2 separate regions of the Homo sapiens genome follow, and region 1 is linked to region 2. Evidence: fine-mapped QTL for protein levels in blood plasma. Region 2 holds a variant in brackets. A gene starts in the other region. All regions are shown on their forward strands.

The links. PIP is the chance, under the fine-mapping model, that this variant and not a neighbour inherited with it causes the effect. Protein levels are from antibody-based Olink assays in UK Biobank. Linkage for the fine-mapping came from a reference panel and not from the study's own genotypes, which makes the PIPs less certain.
Region 1: FCRL2 starts here. The variant in region 2 is fine-mapped to the plasma level of the FCRL2 protein (UK Biobank, PIP 0.98).

Annotation. Positions count from the first base shown.
Region 1 is chr1:157,776,502-157,784,501 of GRCh38, forward strand. FCRL2 (Fc receptor like 2) reads right to left here and starts at 631. Exons shown (of 12, transcript NM_030764.4): 1 at 542-631. The coding sequence starts at 572. RefSeq lists an enhancer at 4,553-4,612.
Region 2 is chr17:68,928,145-68,944,627 of GRCh38, forward strand. ABCA8 (ATP binding cassette subfamily A member 8) reads right to left here. Exons shown (of 40, transcript NM_001288985.2): 3 at 13,795-13,895; 4 at 12,614-12,818; 5 at 8,807-8,971; 6 at 5,024-5,127; 7 at 4,144-4,370; 8 at 1,417-1,558; 9 at 905-1,090. The coding sequence starts at 13,890. Among named protein-coding and RNA genes, the nearest start is that of ABCA8, 19 kb to the right of the region's middle. The variant C/A (reference allele first, on the strand shown) is at 2,336.

The DNA of each region.
Region 1 (8,000 bases), not on the chromosome of region 2:
CAAGTGATCCACCAGCCTTGGACTCCCAAAGTGCTAGGATTACAGGTATGAGCCACTGCACTCACCCAGGAATCTTATTTTCTAGCAGCAGCTGTCATCTCCCTCATTGTCCACGATTAAACAGAGGAATATTAGCAAAGGGTCTCAATGCATCTGCTGAACCCAAATCTTATAGATAACAATTGAATAATCGGTGTTCATGGAGGAGAAGGGCATTGCTAAATGCTAATATTATGAACATTTTACTATGAGAACATTATATTACTCAATGAGATCTAAGATATCAAAATAGCAATTCATGACCAGCAAATGGAAAAGTGGTCCACCTTGAACATTAAGCATTGTGCTTAATGCTTAATGGATGTGCTGCAAATTCACTGTCCTCAGCCTACTTCTTTGCATCTGCCTTTGAAGCCCAAGCTGCAGGCAGGACCTGAGCATCCCCACCAGTCCCTGGGCTCCAATAAAACCTCCAACCTTTTGGGAGCAGTAGACCTCATTCAGCTGCCACCTCACTTCTCAGTCAAATTATTGAACTCACCAAAGATGACCAGCAATGACCACAGCAGCATGAGGACCTAATCCAGCTATTTGAAAAGAGATGTACTCTTGGTCACCAACTGGAGACTCTGAGCAGGCGATGAAATGTGGTTTTCAGAATAGGTTTTGTATAATTAGCAAAAAAGGAAGTAGAATAGTGCCACTATGTTTAACCATTATCTTTGTCCTGGAAGGGCTAAAACAATTATAGCTGATCCTCTCAATGCCAGAGAAATTTTGTAACTTGACCCTCATTATGATACCTAGCATTTACATATGGGTTGCAATGAGTCAGACACAGTTCTAAGTGCCTCATGCTTACAGAGTTATTTATTACCTTCAGCAAGTTTCTGAATTGGCACTATCCCCTTTCACATGAATAAGGAAATTGAGGCACTAGTAAAGGTAAGTGTCTTAGTCCATTGGGGCTGCTATAAAGAATACCTTAGACTGAGAAATTTATAAACAACATAAATTTATCACTCATAGTTCAAGAGGCTGGGAAGTTTAAGATCAAGGCACCAGTAGATTCAGTGTCTGATGAGGGCCTGTTTCTCATAGATGGTGTCCTCTATGTGTCTTCACATGATGGAAGGAGCAAACAAGCTCCCTCAAGCCTCTTTTACAAGGAGACTAATCCTTTTCATAAGAGTTCCACACTCATGACCCCTAAAAGGTCATGTAATAAAAGGTGGGTACCTTTTATTACTATTGCATTGAGGATTAAGTATCAACATAAGAATTTTGCCAGGACACAAACATTCAGATGATAGCAGCCAGTAAAATGACCAAGATCAGCTTAATCAATTTCTAGTAGTAACAGATCTGGGATTCAAACCCAGGCAGCCCAGTGTCACAGTCTGGCTCTTAAACATTGTGCCCTATTATCTTGATATATTGCTTCTCAAGGTTCATAAAATAATAAGGCCATTGTTTCAATAGCTCATATTTCTTAAGTAAAATTTTTCGTAGTCATTCGATGACTTTCTAGAATGAGATTTTACTAAACTTCAAAACACTTGCACTATATTGCTGAAAACATTGCCATCTTTCTAATCTGTAATCACAACATTGCCTATTTCTAATCTGCATTGCTTTTTGTACCCCAGGCTGATCCTAATACAGTTATCTCACACAAAGCAAAGCGCGTGTTATGTGAACACCTATTATCATGCTCACTTTGATTAGATGTAGTCCCAGTAGATGTTGTCTCATCAGTGAACCTTATGCAGGATGAAACTCTAAACCAAAAAATCACAGGTGCTTATAAATGAGGGACTGACTGAAAATATTCATAGACTCAATGTTACCTGTTCAGGTACTTAACATTTACCTGAATACTTAACATTGAATTTTTAACAATTGGATACTTAACATTTTATTCTCACTATTATCATAGTTTTACTTTGAGAAAGGCTAATATTTATATGTGATGGTCATTAAAGCCTTGCTTATAATAATGTAAAAAGAAAATACTAAAAATATATCACAAGGAGAGATGTGTGTTAAAAATAAGTTATGTGTCAAATGCTGTGGAAAACCAAACAGCCATTAAAATAATTCTGTGGAATAATATTTAATAGCAAGATAAGATGTCTAGGATATATGATTAAGAAAAAAGTGGGCTGGGTGCGGTGGCTCACGCCTGTAATCTCAGCACTTTGGGAGGCTGAGGCGGGCGGATCACGAGGTCAGGAGATCAAGACCATCCTGGCTAACACGGTGAAACCCCATCTCAACTAAAAATACAAAAAATTAGCCGGGCGTGGTGGCAGGTGCCTGTAGTCCCAGCTGTTTGGGAGGCTGAGGCAGGAGAATGGTACAAACCCGGGAGGCAGAGCTTGCAGTGAGCCGAGATCGTGCCACTGCACTCCAGCTTGGGTGACAGAGCAAGACTCCGTCTCAAAAAAAAAAAAGAAAAGAAAAGAAAAGAAAAAAGTGGCTGCAGAGTGCACTTTATCTGCTGCACATTATCCCCTGCTCTCCAATAAAAAGTGTCTGAGACAATTCGCACCACAGAGTTACTGTAATTATATCCAAAAAATCTAATTAAAGCTGATTTTTATTTTCCTTATTTTGCTTATCTGTGTATTCTAGTATTCTTACAATAAACATATGCTATTTACGTACTTTTTAAAGATTCATTATAAGAAACTAGGTTTTATGGCCTCTCTCATCTTAAAGTGTTGAAAACAATACTACTTTAACTTTCTGCATAGGCAAACGGTTTGTATGTGTTTGAAAGTGTAAGTTACTCTTTCCCAGGACCAAAGCTAGTCACTGATCATCAAATCTTGCCTACTGAATGGGTTTCTAGGTGGCCTATAATTCCTTCCCATTCTGACCAACCTGGAAGCTATAGAAATTTTGTGGATGGGAGGGAATTAAGGAAAGGAGTACAAATAGGATCATGAAAAAGTTGATGGTAAATTGATGGTAGGTACAAGTTTTTCATAGACATCAAGGAGATTTTTCAAAATAATCCATATCCCTTCACTGATTTCTATATACCCTCTATGGAAATGTGGCCTCTTCAGTTAAGAATCAATATTTCTTAAGGTGTTACCAAATGATATGAGGTAAAATTCACAGTTGGTATAAAAGGTGCAGGTGGAAAGCAGCAGTAATGAGGTGTGTGGGCCACAGAGGTGGCAACAAATCCTCTAAGATGGCTAACATGTTTCATGTGGGTGCTACTCTGTATTTGACAGACGGCAGTAATTTACAAGTGAATAGGCATATCCTGGAAGCGTAGCTAAACTTGAATGCACAGTAGGCACTGTGACCAGAGATTAAGAGGCTTAATAGACACTTGGTGGGGGGTGGGGAAAGTAACTTAAAAATTAAGGCAATAGTGGCAGAAATAAAATTATGTTTGTAGGTTTGATCAAAGTGAGAGATAATACTTTTTGTGCAAGGATATTTTGCCACCAACAGGATGGAGTCACAGGTATCAGAAAGAACCAGCATTAGACATACATATAAATGCCTCTTGGATCAACCAGGTAAACCCTTAACATGGAGATTCCACAGGTGGTAACATACTGAAGCCTATTTTGCCAGATGCAGAGCAAGAGTCATCTCTGTGAACCGTGTTCAATGTCTTGAATGGAATACAAAATACAGTGCCAAGTTGGGGCATGCCAGAACTGAGACAGAGACAAATAGAGTCTTCATAAAATATGTCAGAATAAAACAAATCACACTTCCTGCTTGATGAATTTGATTACTAGGACAGTTAGAGTGGGAAAATAAGAAAATGAAACAGGCTAACTTCCAAGATCCCTAGATATAATCTTTTGAGCTTGGGGTTCCAAGGTCACTATGAGAGAATTAAATGTCATAATATATATAAATTACTTGTCATAATAATTGCTACATAAATGGCAGTAGAAGTAGTCATAGTCATGGTCATCATCATTGTTATGGCAGTAGTGGTAGTAGCAGTTTTAATAATTACAATAATTACCTTGAGCAGCATGATATGTCTTTGTTGAGTGGGGCTTTCCCTAATAACTTCCTGTCCAAGATAGTAACTAGATACTTTCCGAGTTCTATGGAGGTGATGTTGTTTGTTGAAGAACTTCTGGGACAGAACTGGCTAGACCAAATGTTGTCTATGCAGACACTCTCCAATGTAATTTAGACAGAGCCAGGCCCTTCTGCCCAGAAGATTTTTTACAATTAAATTTATTATATCTAGAAGTCCAGTAGGGCTCTGCATGGAGCAAATAGCATGAAAGAGAATTCAGAATGGGTATAAATGCTTGGAAGCTAGTGGTCATTACCTCCATGGAAGATAATGAAGATAGTGAAAGCCCAGAGAATCAGAGAAGGCCAAGAGTAAGTTGAAGTTTTAGATAGTGTATCTCTAGGGGACTGGAGTTTAACAAAGTTCGATTTTTTCCTTCGTCATGAAGATTATCAGTTCCTTTAGTAGCAATGGAAACTATGGTAAATCCTTACTAAAGAAGGTATTACTATTCCTACAGTGGAGGTGGAGGGGAACCCAGCCTTGGTGTCTGAGGGGAGGCAGAGAGGCAGAAAGACTTAGGGAGGCTCATAGAAGACATCAGAGCAGCACCTGTGGTGGTGAGCAGTCTTCTCTCCGTGTATGAAAATACTTCCTGGCAAGTTGCCTGGGTTCCATGAGAACAACAGGTGGGGAGGGATGTCTAGAGGTCAAATTCAGTTCAAAGCTTTCTGCTTCCTGTTTTAATTGTATATGTGTGGGTTTTCCAGAAGGTGGATGGGTTATGACTTTTCAGGCCAAGGGGAGCTGTGAACCATGGGTCATCAACTACACCAACCGTTAGTAGAATCACCCACAGCAGCTTTCTGTGGGTGTCTTTCTGGCAGGCTGGTGAGTATCAGTTGTAGTAGAAGAAAAAAGCAAGAACCAAGATCGAGATTACACTGATGGCTTTCTGTCTTGTTTTACCATGCTTTTTTTTTTTTTTTTTTGCTCACTCTTCTAACACACTCTGCTAATAACTTTTTCACAGTTCATAAAGATATGATTCCCAAGCAGAATCATTATTCATTCAGTCATTAATTCATGCATGCATGAAGCCATGCATTCAGTTACTCAGTGGAGTTTTATTCAATGCCCCTGCTTGATGGGCAATACACTTGGCACTAGACATACCCAGATAAAAAGATATGGTCCCTGCCCTGATGGAAATTGCATTCTAGCATCAGAAGACTAATAGAAAAGAGTAAACATACTTGTGTCCCACTGCTGTGGTGGAGCTCTGTACAGCATGTGAATGGACACAGTGGAGATTAAGGAGTAAAGGCTTCCAGAAGAAATGAATATTGAGAGATAGGTAGGTTTCAATCAAGCAAATAAGACTTAGGAAGATGGAGAAGTTCCAGGCCTAGAAAGCATCAGGAGCATGGTAAGAGGTCAGGGACCCATTCGGGCTGCTCAGGTATCCACAGGCACTTTAGAATGGCAGATCCAAAGGTATGAGGAAGAGCATCACAAGAGGTAAGGCCCAAAAGTGGGAAGGTGGGAAAATCTTTATATTTTCATAGGGTGGAGGAGACACCCACTCCATTCCCAGGAAAGAACACCACTAGATAAAACTCTTTTGGTCCTTTTACCATTGTCCTTTTATTCCTACTATTTGTTCCTCTGCATGGGAGAAGAGGCTCATCTGATTGGTGAGTTGGGTTGAAGATGTCAGCTCATGACCTTGTTCTCTCTCTTCACTTGTCCTCAAACAGAAAGTAATCTCTTCCTGCTTATTTTCTTATGTGTAATTATCTCAATGAGTTATCACAGAAGCCAGGGTCCTCTGCTGGCTAAACACAACTCTCCTAACAGTAAGTCCCAAAGCCTATTGATAGAAAAGTAGAGAAAATCTCCATTTGGCTGAAATATAAGTCACATGATCTAGTCTAGTATGGTCATTATTAAAGCTGATATTTTGTCTCCAATCTGACTTTGTCAACTTAGTTCCAAACCTGGAGAAGAGACATAAGGTGAGTAGCACCCATAAACCCTAAATATTTCAAGACTAATGGTGGCATTTCAACCATGATCAGAACATGATCATTTTGAATTTGGACAGCAGGGTGTATGTGGACTAGAAGGAATAAAGCTAGAGATAAATAGAAGAGCTGTATGGCCACTGATACAGTCCAGGATAGAAAAGATGAAGGCTTGAACTAAGGTGGTTCTGATGAAGAGGAGGAGATAAATTTTGCCAGAGTCAAAATCTGCAGAGCTTCATGACTGATTAGGTGTGGGGTGTAAGAGTGGAGCCAGAATCCAGAAAGATACCTAGGTTCCTGGACTTTGTTTTTACTAAGTTACAAATCTGCTTTAATTTTATTTACGGCAGCCTGCTCTGCTTCTCTGGATTGAAGTCTTATTTTTTTCCCTCATAATCCTTTATCCCCAAGATTCTTCTTAGAAGGTATCCCATACTTCCTGTAACCAAGCTCATTGCAATCTCATTATATAAATTTTTCAGGGTTCTCCCAGATGAGCCGCTTCCTCATATTTTGTCTCAGCTTTAGCCTCCTTTCTTCTTTCTTCTCTCTTTAACCATCTCACTCAAATTTAGCATTGTCATTTCCTCAATGCCATAGTGGCAGATTTGTCTGTGTCTTACAGGAAGCTTACATGCCTTGTGACAAGAAACCACCATTATTGACCTGTCCAGGAAAACTAGTCATAAGAAAGTATATGGCAAAGCTATCAATGGCCCACTGGTGAAGGAACCCAGAGCTGAGACAAGGATAAGGCAAAGGGTGGGATCAGTTCTAGAGCTAACTTCTAACAATTTCAGTGTTTGTGCATAACTAAAAATAGAATTTTCTTCCAGTGTTTCTCAATTAATTAAATTTTTCACTTTTATCTGGCATCAGATACATAGGAAACTATAAAGAAAAAAAGTTTAAAGATATAATTGTGGTATTGGTGGACACACTATTGGGAGAATGAAAAAGGTTTTGGTTGCAAGGGAAAGATGATTATAGAATAACAGAACTCCACAAATACAGAGAAAATTAAGGGTCATCAATATTATCAGAAAGCCTGTGACTCCAGCCAATTGGATCAATTACTTATAATGGAAGACATGATCCAAGATAGCAAACTAAGCACTGGTATTTAAATTTTCTTACTTTCAAAATCCCCTTAGATGATGAAAAAATTTAAAAATCAAAATAAAATCCACCACCACTTGGAAAACAAGAAGTGGGGAATACTAGTTCTGGCAGGTTTGGTTAGACTAAAACACCTGAAAATTCTCCCACTTTAAATTCTCCCACTTAAATGCTTATAAGTGATGAATAAATATTACATAATTTTTAAATACATAACTATATATGTAAGAAAGGAGAGAAATCCCCCCATTGTAGATAAATGATGAAGTGAAAGCAGAGTGTTAAACATGTAAATTGGCATTACTGATCCCCTGGGAGGTGTAACGGAGGAAATTAAACAGTAGCTATGTATTTTTTTTTTTTTAGATGGAGGCTTGCTCTGTCCCCCAGGCTGGAGTGCAGTGGGGCGATCTCAGCTCACTGCAACCTCTGCCTCCCAGGTTCAAGATATTCTCTTGCCTCAGCCTCACAAGTAGCTGGGATTACAGGCGCCCGCCTCCACGCCTGGCTAATTTTTGTATTTTAGTACAGACGGGGTTTCATCATGTTGGCCAGGCTTGTCTTGAACCCCTGACCCCAAATGATCCACCAGCCTCGGCCTCCCAAAGTGCTGGGATTACAGGTGTGAATCACCATGCCCGGCCAATACTAGATACTTTTTATGGGCTTAGTGTTTAAAGTCCATGTGGAACTAGGAAACAAAACCTTAAGGCTTCAAAAGGAAGAAACTTGAAACTAAAACACCTGCATACAGTGTAGACCCTCAAAAACTACCTTTTAATAAATGAATGGTGGGTGGGGGAAAAAATCCACCCATTAGCACAGACAGATGATAAGCA
Region 2 (16,483 bases):
TGACTACTTATTGCCTCATACTGAGAATAGAGTTATATAGGGAGACTGCCTCCTTTATGGTTCTCAAATCTATGCCTTGGAAGGCATGGACATATGAGCAACTAGAATGCAATTTAGTAATTGCTATGATAAAAATATGTTCCAAATGAAATTGAAACATTAGGAGGAAGTAGGGAAGTATGGGAAGAGATGACATTTGAGATCGAACTTAGATGAACTTTTACCAAATAGGACACAGTCAAAAGGTGTGGTGATCCATGTAAATTGGCGGCATGAGGGAGAATTTCTGGGCAAAAGGCACTGCTGTGTTTAAGTAGAACCAGAAGTGGGCTTGTCTATGATGTTCAAGTTAATGAGCTCTTTATAATTAACAATCCTTTTGTTAAACACTAAATAATGGATATTTAATGGTTGACATTTCCATTTAGTTAGAGGGAAGGCAAGGGGAATTCAATAAGAATCACATAAACAGAAAAGACATTTTATGAATAGAAACATAATTTACTAATGAATTTTCCAGATGTTTTAAATTTTTAATTTAATTTGATTTAATGGTTTTTAATCACGTATTCTCTTCAATTACTAGGTAAAAACATGAACTGGAATAGTTATTTATAATTAGATTTGCCACATGTCCATATTTAATTAATAGCCTAAGAAAATACTTTATATTGCCTTTAAATAATTGTATGTTGATCCTCTTTTTTTCACTTTCCAAATGTCTTATTTTGCTGGGCTAAATAATTTCCAAGCTTTTAAAAGTTCTGTCTTTGCAACTTTACAACAGCCTTCGCTAGAATTTTAAGCCTTACAATGCTGAGTTTGTAAATGATTACAGCCTATGGATTCCAGAGGGACAGATGTTTCAGAAATGCCATTAATAGACATTCAGATGGCATCTCACCTGGGCCATTCCAAGCATGAAGGCAAAGGGACTAAGCAAGCTTAAAATCCACTCCAAGGATGCAGGAAGGTGTCTGTACAGTGATGTGAACCCCAGACACCCCCAAAAGACAGTGAGGAGGAACACGACCAGGCCGGTGAGGAAAGATTTCTTTACCAAGATGCTCATTAAGAAAGCCAAAGCTACCTAAAATGAGAGAAGATCTAGTTGGTTTATGTTTCTCTAACATTATTACTAGCATAATAAAATAGATATACAAAATTATAGTTATTTTGTGTATGTAACAGTTGTATATTATAGTTATTTTGTATATAACATACAAAACTATGCTCTGCAAATTGCACTAAAAATTGACATTACAAAACACCTCAAATCAAATTGTACCTGTTTATAGATTTTTCACATGCAAACAGAGTAGGTAGAAAAAAAAGGAGGCATACAGAGTAATCAGTCGGAAACAAACAATTTTTAGGCTATAGGTGGATGGAAAGATATTTAATTCACTAACTCACCAAAGATAATCCATACAGGAGAAAGAGGCTGAAGACTACCATGAAGCCAGACAAAATGATAAACTGGGTAGATCTTATAACAAGTGCCAAGAAAAGGGCCATAATGAAGATGAAACCAGCATAGAGCAAACCCCAGGAGAGCCTAATGTGGAAACAAAATGTTATTTTAGTATTTTATGTTCACTTGAAAAGGAAGACCTGAAATGGATTCTAAGATAACTCTTCATTCACTTATTCATCCATTCATTCTCTCTTTCAACATTTATTTATTGGGTGTTCTAAGATATATAAATACAAGGTAAAAGTTTTGGGCAGAATTCTTTAGAATTAGGAATATTCTTTGGGAATTAGGAATTGTTTTTCCTAAAATTGATTTCAGAAATACATTCACACACACATGCACATTGTTCTGGGGGGTGGGGGCGGTGGGGGGGGAATTAGGTTTCCAGTGTAATAGATTTTGGATCGAACATTTTATTTGCTGCATTCTTGCTCTGTAACCTTGGGCAACCTCTGTAACCCCTCTATTATTCCTTTATTTCTCTGGACACCAGGAATAATACTACCACTGAAGACTAAATAAGATGATGGCTATGTAGGGCACTGTCTTAATACAGGGTAGCCCCTCAGTGAACCTCAGACCCTTCTCTCCTCTCTGGAGTCTCTCCAAGTTCAGGACCATCACAAGCTTCCTCAGAGACAAGAAATTCTTCCTTATGTGTAATTTGGTCATGTCACTCCTTCCCCAAAAGCTGTTGTCATCTTTCTCTGGATGTGTTCACTGAAAAGTCTACATACTTGCCTTTAGTTCCGTTCATTGTTTTTGTTAAGAAAGATTTTTTTTGAATCCCATTCTTTTATGTCAGAATAATTCACTTTCCTTTCCTCATCAATTTCTTTTCTTTTGTTTTACAATATT[C/A]TTTGAAAACTATAATGAAATAATAATTTTAAAAAACAAAAACAAAACAGCTGCAAAGCCAACACAATAATAACTCACACACATAGCAATTAATATGCATTGAAGAAAACTTAGCAAACATTAAAGCATTTTATTCTCCCAATAGCCCTATTCAGAATACCATTATTTTCCTCATCTTATTGATAGAGAACCTAATGAACAAGGGTGTTATGTAACTATGTTTCAAGTTCAGGGGTTTTGGCTCTATAGTCTTTAGATTTCACTGCTCTGCTACGTTTCCCTCCAGTATTAATTCAAACAAGAGGTCAATATTGATGTATAAGATGTTAATACTGGAAGGAACTCTTCCAGACTCCTAATTTGTTGCCCTATGCACAGCCCATCTGCCTCCCTAGCCTCTCTGTTATTTAATGTCCTACTCCCTGTAAACATCACCTCCATGCTCTTTCAGTCAATTATTCATAAGTTCTCACACAGAACCTTGTCCATTCTTGGAATCACCCAACCTCTGACATTTTAAACCCACACTACCCAGCCCCTATTCACCATCCTGTTTTGCCAGCTCATTCCCTCAGGCACACCAAGCATGTTCCTCAGTCTCAAAGGAGTTCCTGGTCCTCGGCTTCTTTTTCCCTTTCAATCCCCTCCTAGCTCACATCTCACCTCTGTCTGGCACAGACACCATTGTCTATCTTGTTTACGCCTCTCTTGCCATGGCCATTCCTCATTACACCTTCTTCACAATCAACCAATAACCTAACCCCAATCTTCTTCCTTAACTCAGAGAAGCACAGTAAGACGCAGCCTCAGCCTGGCAAACATTACACCAATGACAGTTTATACCATTCATGGGGATAAAGGATTTTTATATTTCTTTCCTTGTTACTAAAGAATGTTTAAAAGTGGCATTTTCTTATTCATGGCAACACATTTTTTTAAATGGACATTGATGTGTGATAGTTGTGACATTATTTTTTCTGTAAAATTCTGCATTTGGCTCCTTATTTGTTTTCTCAAAGTTTTTTTATTTACTTTTTATGTTTCTTTAAAAGATTATCTTCCTCCTTTCTAAAAAAGTCAATATTATTCGTAATGGAAGTTGTATTTTCTTAAATGTTAGCACATTCTGTCCCCTTTTATCTTATTTCCTATAGCAGTTCCTTCACAGTACAGTGAATCTGAAATAGATTTAGATAAAATTGGGTCAGAGATTGTTAAATATATTAAATGACCAGCCTCTCTACTTAGTCCTGTAAAATTTCCAGAAGCAAAATACATTTCCTTTTTTTTTTTTTTTTTTTTTTTTTGTCCATCACTGCAGAGCATTTCTCCCCACTGAAATTAACTAAGTGGAAATTTGTTCATGATCTGAAATTATTCTGTGTAGGTATCTCTCATTTGTACCCCTTGGTTGTGGAGAAACAGGTTTTAATAAAGACGCATTGAAGAGGCCGGGCGTGGTGGCTCGCGCCTGTAATCCCAGCACTTTGGGAGGCCGAGGTGGGTGGATCACGAGGTCAGGAGATCGAGACCATCCTGGCTAACACGGTGAAACCCCGTCTCTACAGAAAATACAAAAAATTATCCAGGCATGGTGGTCGGCACCTGCAGTCCCAGCTACTTGGGAGGCCGAGGCAGGAGAATGGCGTGAACCTGTGAGGCGGAGCTTGCAGTGAGCTGAGATCACGCCACTGCACTCCAGCCTGGGCGACAGAGCGAGACTCCATTTCAAAAAAAAAAAGATGCATTGAAGATTCCCAGTTTTCCTGAGTTCCTCCGTTTATTTATTTGTGCTGCGTTTGACTCACCAGAACGCTGAATCCCGAAGACCCATCATTGTCATCAAGGCCTTCATCCTTTTCCTCTCTCTTGTGACATTAACAGATGCATAGTAAATGAATGAGGAAAATGAAATAATGCAGGAAAAAAGGTACAAATCAGTTATAACTCCTGATTGACCAATGAAGGAATGCATCTTCATATTTTTTCCAGTAACTGACATCAGCTCCTCCATCACTGAGTGATTTGTTGTGATCTGAAGAAAGGCATTAATAAGCAAAATTTGTACGTTAATGAACAGCATGCAGTTTTCTTTTAACCATCTATTTTCTTGTGGATGTATGATTGGCCTATTGGGATTTGATACTAACCTAAATTTCCACTTCTATGTCCTGTCATTGACCTGCTGGGACCTCGGAGTCCAGGCATTTTGAGTTACTCACCACTCTCAGAATTTACTGTGTGTTTCATTACCTCCCTGCCTAACATTACTTTATGATTTGCTTGGCATGGCTTTTCTCAATTTATATATTCAGTAAGCCACCCCTCATCTCAAGCTTCAAGCTGGAATGTTATTTCAATTAGGCATTCTTCCATGGCATTCTAAGGCTGAGAGGTTTTTACTCATTTACTTATGAGGACCTGATTTATAGTTCTGTAATAGTCTACTTCTGTTCTAATAATTTTCTTATATTCCTGGCTTCCCAACAAAGTTGAGTCCATGAATGAGATACTTTTTCTTCTGTTTGTATCTACATTCCGTGGTATATAGTAACTTCAGTAAACTTCAGAGTGAGCAAAGGAAATAACAAGGCTATCCACTTATATTTTCTTCCATGAAACTTTTGATGCCTCTAATATCATTAACTTGCATTAAACATTAGTTTGCTTTGAACATTTTGTACTCACTTCTATAATAGCAGCATTAATGGCAGCTTGAAGAGCCACAAAACCTTCCTTCCAAAATACTGAAACTTCACAGTAAACATCTTCATTTGTTTCATAACAATGAGCTTTGTGAAAAAACAAATCATAACTATCATTACATCACTATCTATATTATTGAAATATGATTTTAATACTGATTATAGCAAACAGTGGACTTTACAATGACCCCAAATTCCAAATGTTCTTATTTTGACTCAAAGCTTATGAAAACATAAATTATAACAATGATTCTCAAAATGAATCAGGCAGAATCATGAGGTGGAGCACTCTTAGGAAATGTTTTACATTAAATTATAACACTCTAAGCTTTCTCATACCGTGTCCTGTGCTTTTCTGCTGATGAAGAATTTTGTTGGTCTCTTCTCTTTTCTGATTTGTATTGTGAAAACTACATATTTTAATGTTTTTCAAAAGTTCACAGAGCCTAACATGGATTGAGAGACACTAAACTAAAGCTTTTTCTAACACTGGATATAACACGGGCATAATAGGCCAATGGAAGTTCAAGTAAGATTACTTACTACGCTTAAATCATGCCAATCAGAATATCTTTTGAAGAAAAGGATTTATTCAAAAAGAGCTGTCAGTCCATTTAATAGTAAACTATATTAAAGAGATATCCTTGAATAAGATGAATTAAAATTGAGTATAGGAATTAAATGCATATTACATGAAATCATCTTGAAATATTTCAGATATACGAATGATATAAAAATACAATAAACACGCATGGACTCACTACAAATTTGCAAAATAAATGCATCATTTCAAATACAATTAGAATCTCTTGTGCACTTCCCCAGCACCAAGTTTCTAACTAGCTAACTGCTTTCCTGAACGTTATGTATATATATATGCCACTACATATCTCTAAACTATATATGTAATTTAAAAAATTAAACTCTACTAATAATTACTATGAACTATGTTCATTTGTTCCATATTATGATTTTGAAATGTAAATAAATTGCCTCATTTAATTTTTTCTTCTTTTTTATGGTTATGGAATCCCATTGCAGGAATGTAAATCAATATATTTATCCATTCTCCTGTTGATAACAATTTGGTTAGTTCCTTTTTTCTTTTTGTGATTACCAGAAAAAAAAATCTGCTGCTATAAAAATCTGTATATATGTCTTCTTGTAAATATATCTGTATTGGTCAGGATAGTCTCTTATATGTTACAGTAATAACCCCTAAATCTCAGTGATTTATCACAGTGAACGTGTATTTCTCACTCAGGCTACAAATTCAGCAGAGGTGTTTGGTAGGAGGGTTGAGTTGTACTGTCTGTATTATACACAACTCCTTAGTTTGCAGAAGCAGGTGAGAAAAGATGAAGAACTTATACCTGCATTTAAATGCCTTGGGTCTAGCTATCTTATTATGACTACAAAAAGTAATTATTCTATGTCCTCTGGAAGAAGAGGAGAATAGGCTGCAAATCTTTAACACAGGTATGAGAGTTTCACTAATAAGATTTCTATGATGATGAGTTATAAGTTATGTGCACTTCAACTTTAAGATAAAATTTCTCAATTTTTGTGGAATTTACAAATTTTGTAAAGTTGGATAGGTGTTCTCTTTGCTACATATCCTTGTCAATACTTCGAATTGTTCTATTTGCTAATTTTTGCAAATCTTATGAACATGAAGTGATATAACATGTGGTTTCAACACGCAGTTTCCTGGTTGCTAATGAGGAAAAACACCTCTCCTAGTGCTTATTCTTGATCTGTGTTGTTTTATGAAATTCCTATTAATGTCCTTTTGTTATTTTTCTATTTTTGATCTTTTTCCTATTTATTCAAAGTAAATATTTACATATTCTGGAATTAATTTTTTGTTAGATTTTTCTGTTATAAACACTTTATCACCTTTTTTTTTTTTTTTTTAGAGATGGAGTCTCACTCTGTCACTCAGGCTGGCATTCAGTGGAGTACAGTGGTGCAATCTCGGCTCACTGCAAGCTCTGCCTCCCAAGTTCAAGCAATTCTCCTGCCTCAGCCTCCTGAGTAGCTGGGACTACAGGCAGACGCTGCCACGCCTGGCTAATTGTGTGTGTGTGTGTGTGTGTGTGTGTGTGTTTCAGTAGAGACGGGGTTTCACCATGTTGCCCAGGCTGATCTCGAACTCTTGAGCTCAGGCAATCTGCCCGGCTTGGCCTCCCAAAGTGCTAGGATTACAGACATGAGCCACCACGCCCGGCCACTTTATCACAATTTTTGCCTTTATTTTTCACTATCTCTATGGTTCTTTTGATAAAGGGACGTTCTTAAAATTTATGTCTAGTCAAATTTATCAATATTTTAATTTATGGCTGAGTAGTATTCCTATATATATATATATATATATATATATATTATCTTCTTTATCCAGCCCTCTGTTGATGGACACTTATGTTAATTCTCTATCTTTGCTTTTGTGAATAGTGCTGCAATAAACATATGAGTGCAGGTATCTTTTTAAATATAATGATTTTTTTTCCTCTGGGTAGATACCCAGTAGTGAAGTTGCTGGATCAAATGGTAGTTTGTTTTTATTTCTTTGAGAAATCTCCATACTGTTGTCCATAAAGGTTGTACTAATTTACACTTCTACCAACGATGTATAAGTGTTATCTTTTCTTCGCATCTTTGCAAACATCTGATTTTTTTAGACTTTTTACTAATAGCCATTCCGACTAGGGTAAAATGGTTATCTCCTGGTTTTAATTTGCATTTTCTGATAATTAGTGATGTGGAGCATTTTTTTACGTTGGTTGGTTGCTTGTATGTCTTCTTGTGAAAAAAGAAGAATTCAAACAACTCAAATAACTGCACTGAAAAATAGGCAAATGGGTTATTTGTTTTGCTTGTTGAGTTCTTTGAGTTCTTTGTTGAATGCATAGTTTGCGATTTTTTTTTCCATCTGTAGGTCATCTGTTTACTCTGTTGATTGTTTCTTTTGCTTTGCAGAAGTTTTTTTTAGTTTAATTAAGTCTCGTTTTTCTATTTTTGTTTTTGTTGTATTTGCTTTTGAGAACTAAGTCACAAATTCTTTTCCTAGCCCAATGTCCAGAAGAGGTTATTCCTAGTTTTTTCTTCCTGAATTTTTATAGGTTCAGGTCCTATGTTTAGGTTTTAATCCATCTTGAGTTAATTTTTGTATATGGTGAGAGATATGGGTCCAGTTCTATTGTTCTGCATAAGGCTATTCAATTTTCCCAGTACAATTTATTGAAAAGGATTTTTCCCCCAGTGTATATTTTTGTTGACTTTGTCAAATATCATTTGATTGTAGGTATGTGGCTTCATTCTGGTTTCTCTATTCTGTTCTATTTATGTACATGTCTATTTTTATACCAGTATCATGCTGTTTTAGTTACTATAGCCTTGTAGTATAATTTGAACAACTGAGCTTATTTGAAGGGAAATTTGTTCTATCTTATCCATAAACTACCTTGTTTTCTTTTAACAATCATATATTCCATATAATATCTATGTGTGTACATATGAATACATATTTCATTTACATATATAAATATATATCTATGTAAATGTATGTAGATAACTATATATAATGACCACTTATCGATATGTTCTTATGCCCAAAAATGAATTTTTTTTTAAATGTTGAGGGACATGCATACATCATTATGACAGATAGTGATGCTCTAATTTGGCATACTAACCTCTATTCCCACACATGACTTATGACATAATTGAAATAGAGAGTAGTGAAATTTTAGAGCCATAAAATTACCTGTATGGTCCTTGTGCTCCTTCTTTGCTGGCATTCCATGTCCTAGCAAGAACTTCAAATGATATGAGTATGTATTAGTAAAGGTGACTCTTACTATTTCTTCAGGATAATTTGCTGTGAATTCTTTAATACTTTCCTCATCTGGCAGTCCCAAGACCTCTTTACCTTTTGTTACAAGAAGGAATATTATTGTTAGTAAATTACTAGGAGACACAACTTCAGGATGTCATGTTGAATTGCTTTTACTAGAGTTTTCTATGGAAATAAAACATTATCAAGTATTAACTTTTAGAAAGTTAGACTAAAATGTTGGGTGGGAGAGAAATTTCTAAAGTTCCATCTAGATGCAATCAGAAGAAATACATGAAAATTAGTTATTTTATTTTCATATGTTGTGATTACTGAGCCAATTTCAATCACATACAATGTCCTACTATACCAATTAAACTGTTCAAAAATAGTTATCATTCCTATAAATTTGAAATGGTAAATATAGAGAGATAGATATTTAAATTGCAATTAGGCACTGTTTTGTATCAGGTGGACATACCTATACAAATTTATTTTTCTTTAATAATCCTGATGGTATGGTTAATAAGCTAAAAAAGGTGATAAATTTAAAAACATGTTAAGAAACTATGTTGACATCACTGAAAGAATCCCTCTTTTCTGTAGGTATTTTGTCTGAGGCCACATGGATGTTTTATTAATACTGAAAAATGAGACAAAATACAAGAAAAGTTCTGGATTGGGGTGGAAGTGTTGAAGATGAATGTAGAGGGAGCAAGAAGTATGTATTTTGATAGAATTAATTTTATTCTCAAACTTATGTCATCATGAGCAAATTCCTTACCCTTTGTTACTCAATTTCTATATTTGTAAAATAAACTTAATAACCATTATTATTATTATTATAGAATATTAATAGAGTACAGAATATAGAATAATATCATTACAAAATATTCTCTTTTTACAGAATACAGTTTTTGTAGAAATATACCATATTGTAGCATTTAATGAATATTTATTATTATAATTGCATGTGGTTTTGAATGAGGTAATGTCGAGAAGCACAAGTTCCTGACATTGGGTCTTGTTATGGACGTCTGTGAAACAGCAAGAGCAGACACGTCTCAGGGCCGTTTAGGAGACTGGACCTTAGGTGGATAGTTCATATCACATTATAATCTTGAATCAGAAGTGGATTCAGTGTTGGTAGGTAAGATGCACAATATAGGCATTAAAATGTATGTGGAACTAATGGTGTGATGCTTGGTGAGGCGCCGTTGGAAAGCATATTTTGGATAACTCACAGGAAGGAAAAGTCCAACATACTCTGGAAACTCTGGCCATAGACAGTCCAAATAGCAAGTGCATGAACTGGATTACTGGATACAGAATCCAGTGAAGGGGTCAGAATCCAGGCATAAGATTAATAATTACTTAAGCTTGAGTGGAATTTGGACGGAAGTTGACAAAGAAAGGAAAAAAAGAGGTTATGCAGGCTTCCAGTGACTTGGTGGAGCAAGATGCATAGGTTCTCCTTAGAAGAACGCCCTTGGTGGGAGTTATGTTGCTTAAAATGAATAGTCAGTACCTTCTAAGTCAAATTTTTATATTCCTTTAAAAATTGGGATGTAATTCACATACCATAATATTCACCCTTTTAATAATTTCATGGTTTTTAGAATACTCACACAGTTGTACAAACTCGAAGTCACTTTAAAATTATAACTCAACTCATAAAAAATTATTCAACTCATCAAATTAAATCTCACTTTACATCCAACCATCAATTCTGATTTGAAGCTGCTGCCTGATACTGACATCCTGTAGATATAGTCTGACTGTTCCTGTACTTCTACCTCCATTTGTTAATGAGAATCTTCTTTTAGTATTAGCGTAGTTGGCTTTCAATCAGTTAGGTTTGGTATAATCCAAAACAGAATAACTAACTTCTTATTAACTTTATTGACAAATACATTGCTAGCATTATTTTTGTAGTTATTCTGGTTATAACAACTAAATATTTATACAGAAAAATCATGCCCATATGAATGTGGGTCCGATCCAACAGGACACACCATTTGCCATTCTCTACAAAATTCTTAGTAGCCATTACATTTTTACTAGCTGATCTAGAAACCATCCTCCTGTTACCATTACCATGAGCATCTCAAATGAACAACTTAAAACTTATACTCACTATAGCACTAATTTTAATCTTTACCTTAGCCCTCGACCCAGCCTATGAATGAATGACAGGGCGATCACCACAGATTTCCCTTTGAAGTATGCATTTATAGTTGTAAAGGACATATGTTGTTTTTATCTGTTGACATCCAGTTCTTCTAATAAAAACACACTATGATCCATTTGGGATACTTCCCTTCCTCTGCTCACATATCCTGTGGTTTCAATGTGGTTCATGACCTGGGAACTCAACAAGTGGGCAATGAAAATACCGCATATCCCCTATCCAAAGAGATTAGTTCTCGGTGAACCAAGATCAACACTAACCCAAAGTCACCTATTTGTTCCTGTGGATAAAATCCTTGAAGTTATTGTGAACTATCAGAAATGATCTGTAATCTTTTCACTGGAGTTGCTAATCTGGGAGGGCTTAAATCTGGAGAGTCTGCAGACCAACTCTGCCTCTGGGAGAACCAACCTGTGAATGAAGCCAGCACACAAAGCTGTATATCGGAGGGGCAGAGATTTACTTCTGTTGGTGATAAACCTCTAATCTGCCTTGCATTAATACTCTGCTCTTTTAAGCTAGACAAAAGATTCTTTTTCTTAAGACAGATTGAGTTGGGCCTCTTACGCTCAACTGAAATATTTATGAAAAATATAGTATTATTTTTTATAGATCATTGTTAACTAGTCACCCTACTGATCTATCGAACACAAGGTCTTATTTCTTCAAACTGTAAGAGTTTATTGTTGCATAAATTGTTAATCTTATTTTGCGTTTGCTAATAATAAGGCTAAGAGAAGCTGATGGCTTTCAAAATGCACTCCAGACACATATGTATCACAGCAGTTCTGAGTGGACTCTTAGAACTACTTTTAATCAAATGTCCTCTGACTCTAAGTCTAGTTCTCTTGCCTTTGTACCAGGCTGCATCTCCTCTAATTTCAGAGCATTGTTGTAAAAATGATTGTTATAAAAATGATCTTTACCCTTCAGCTTTAAGGTACTCGTTAAGTTAACCTTAACCTTAACTCAACTTAACAACTACTTAACCTTAACTCGTTAAGTACCTTAATGCTGAAGGATGAAAATCTGAAATACAGAATACTCAAAGGAATATTCAAATAGAGCAAGCACATGTTTTTGGTGTTAAAAGGTAGGGTTAAAATTCCTATAATCAAATTTAGGAAAAGAAGAGACTGGTTTTTCTTTGTCTATAAGAACAAGAAAACACTACAGCAACGATTTCATTTTGGTGACAATGCTTTCAGAGTCACATGTCAACATATCCCTAAACACTACTGCTCTAAATGTGCACCAGTCTGTATAATTTCATGCTTCCTCAAATCCTATACCAGATCAACAAGTTTCTTTTTGAGAGACTGCGCACCCCAAATGGTAAACCCTTGTTTGGCAAGCAATACATGTAGTTTTAACTTAGATACTGAGTGGTGAGATGTTACTTCCAATAAAGGGAAGACACATTCCCAATTCATGTACTCCAGAAAGTTTAATTATCAAACTGAAATACAAATTAAATGTATAAATCTGCGGTCAAATAAACCAAATATTCACACCAGACATTCTTCTTAAGTAACTAGAAAACTTACCTGCCAGGAAGGGAGTAGAGGCTACTTTATTCATTATCTGTTGGGTCGTGTTGGTGACAGGTGTGTATACAACAGAAAATCTGGATTCATTAAATGTATCTACCCGTCCCAGGTCCATGGTAAGCAGTGAAGAAAAATCATTTACTTGATGACTATGAGGATATATATACAAACAAAGTAGTAGGAGCAATGAATTCAGCCATTCCTATATAATACAGGAAAAAAGATAAAGAAAAGTCTTATTTAAAATTAGTCATCCACAATCATTTTGTCATAAAGTTTGCCTCTTTTTTACTTTTCTAACTTCAATATATCCCATATTATAAACTGTTTAAAGTCTGCTGAAAGTCAATGTGTTTTAAGAGATAGTTCCAAGGCATTGCTAGCTTAGTAATGATATACTGGTTACATGCCAAGATTCTGGAATTTCAAACTCAACAGTATACCAGTTTGTAAGGGCATTCTGATAATTCTAATAATAAGATAGTATCGGAGGGATAGTATCTTCGTTAGTTATAAATCCTGATCACATGCGAACTCCCAATAAGAAATCACTTTATTTCCAAAATGCATGATCTTAGGGGAAAAAACTTTACGATGTATGTATAGTGGAATTCCAATTTAGTTAAAAATGCTACCTAGCTATATCGATCTGATTTTTAAAATATACCAAAGTTTAATCAAGATTTTTTATATGGTAAGATTATAAGAGCTAATGCTAATTTTCTTCTTGGAATTTAATACAATTCCAACTTTTCTACTTTTTTGAAGAAAACTAATTGTTTCAAGAAGAGAAAAAGATCTCAAAGAGAAAATGCCAGTTACCCATTGTGGTGGGTTGGTTTGTTTACCATATCTTTGGAATGTCAGTATCTTAACCCTAGTCTCCATGACTGGGGACACTAGTAACAAATGTGACCATTGGCTTTTAAAACATGTATTGATTTCTCAATTGCTACCAGATTCAGTGGTTTCAGACCTCAATTTATGAGCCCATGTCAACTGAAATATCTTCAAACAGATTCATGGCCTGAAGAATAGCGTTTTCTGTTGTATAAACGTTGCTGTATTTTAGTGTTTTTGGTGTATGTGTCGGGGGAGATACACATGGCATAGATAACTCCCAGGCAACACGTATTTTCCTATCATAAATAGAGAATAACACGGATATTGAGTCATACCATTAAGGACTCTCTTTTCATTCTCCATTTTTTAAGAAAGTTCTTGCATAATAAGGCCCAAGTTTGTTGACACACACTGATCTTTCTCTTCCTCATCTTGTCTTGTTTAATGAAAAAGAAAGAAGATAAAATTAATATGAAGTTCTTAAGAAAAAGAAATATCCTGCAAACAACAAAAAAACGTAGCCTAATACTCCAATGTTCCAAATGAGTGCAAAGAGTCTGAGTGTTCCCAAGTCAGCATTGTATTACTCCCATGCTCTCCTTCCGTCCCCACTTGCAGACTCTGTTCCATCATTTATTTGTGATGCCCTGTGCCTGTTATCAATTTACTGTCTCTCAGCCCTAAATTCACTCTGCATAGCCTGCTCTATAAAAATGGATCTGAATCCTTTAAGTACTTTCCTTTGCCAGCTGGCATGATGTTATGCTGTTTCAGCAGAGAGGACAGTAGAGACACTGCAGGCATCTGATGCCATCCAGGTATCAGAATAGTTCATTTGCTGAGTTGCTATAGAATGTATTTTTCCCCACTGAGTAAATTGTTTTCTCCAATGCAAAGTACCTAGAGTGTGCAGGATTCACTGTGTGTTTCCTCTAGCTCTTGACTTGGGTAGCAGTAGTATATCTGGGAGCCCCAGATAGCTACATCCCTTTCCTCGAAGCTCTGTTTCCTTTGGCCGTCCTGTTGCAAAAGGAGTGCACTCTAGTACTGGTGTCCACAGCTTGCCATTCAGACTTCTTTGCCATTCGGTGGGTTTCAACCACTTCTTATCCAATTGTCAATACCTTATCTCCTCATGTTTATTCTTCTTTGGATATTCTCCCTCAGCCCTAGGAAGCCCTCTTGAGCTCTCAGTCCATCTTTATAGTTATTCTCCTGTCACTATTCAATAGTTCTGTATATTAAACTTACTTCATTTAATTACTATGTAGTTTCTGTCCCCAGATTGCACCCAGACCAACACCTACACATACACCACTCTTAATTTCAATAAATACATCCTTGAACACCCAATTTAATGACTCTATAATATTTAGCTTAAGAACCTGAATAAATAATCTGTTTTAGGAATTGATCTATCTAAGACAATTTAATGGGATCTTTGTTATTTCTGGCAGAAATAATTGCTCTCTTTACTAATTTGTTGTGGGATGAAAGAAAATTTTCTTTCCCTAGTGAAAGAAATTGAACTTTTTACTATCTTTCTTTGAAGAATTAAAATCTTAATATAGGATAATCACCATAGTTTGGCCTGGAAAAAGCTTTACATTGTCTTTTTAAAATGTCACTTTAATCGAATGTCATTTTAAAGTGACATTTATTTATTGTTTCCATCTTTAAGAATTTATTTATGTTTATTATGCAGAGTCATCAGGAAAAATACACACACGTATTTCCATATATATGATCTCCGTGTATGTGTATAGATATACTTTTTTCTAAAATCATTGTAGCAATTTGTACTATGATAGGAAGTATTTCAAAATTCATCTTTTCCACATTCTCATCTATAACCATATTGCCATTCTCTATAAGATTTCCTGGATTTTTCTTTCACTTACAATGCATAAATTCTCAAGAGAATGTTGCTACTTTCCTAATAATGAAACAAAGTCAGATAATCTATAAAATTATAACTTTTCTTGGGTCTATCAAAGAGCTGAGTTCACAGGTAACTAGGTAAACTAAAGTCCAAAGGGTAAAAGCCTTCTCCAGGGATAAAAGGGACCCATGAACAGTTTCAGAATTGGTAGAGTATTAGAGAAAGACATGGCTACTATAAAAGCAGGTAGGGAGAAAGCAGCTGAAATGTTAAATTTTTAATGGCTGAGTGTGGACCCACAGCTTGCGTGTTTGTTTACAATTACCAGGACCCCAGCACATTTGTCAACTCTTTTTTTACAGGCTTCACCTAGTATTCATTAAAAAAAATTACAATAGCAAAGAGTTGGAACCAACCCAAATCCCCATCAATGATAGACTGCATAAAGAAAAATGTGGCATATATACACCATGGAATACTATGCAGCCATGAAAAAGAATGAGATCGTGTCCTTTGCAGGGACATGGATGAAGCTGGAAGCCATCATCCTCAGCAAAATAACACAGGAACAGAAAACCAAACACCTCATGTTCTCGCTCATAAGTGGGAGTTGAACAAGGAGAACACATGGTCACAGGGAGGGGAACATCACACACTGGGTCCTGTTGGGGGGTGAGAGGAAAGGGAAGGGAGAGCATTAGGACAAATACCTAATGCATGTGGGGCTTAAAACCTAGATGATGGGTTGATGGGTGCAGCAAACCACCATGACACATGTATATCTATGTAACAAACCTGCATGTTCAGCACATGTAGCCCAGAACTTAAAGTTATATATATATATATATATATATATATATATATATATATATATACACATATACATACATATGCAAACAAGAGACCTGAAAGACCCCCAGTAGCTCACAGGCCACAAAATCTACCCATGTCTCAGAACATTTTTTCCAAAGGGCAAATCTAGAAACCTTGGTAGAAGGACAGGAATCCCTGTCAGCCCCACAAAACAAGCTGTTATTGCATCTTGGGGAGGAGTTAAAGCAAAAATCAGCAGCTAATGAGGGGCAATCTGTAAACCACCAACCACCCCTTCCCCCAACCTTTACTCCTGTTCCAAGTGAATT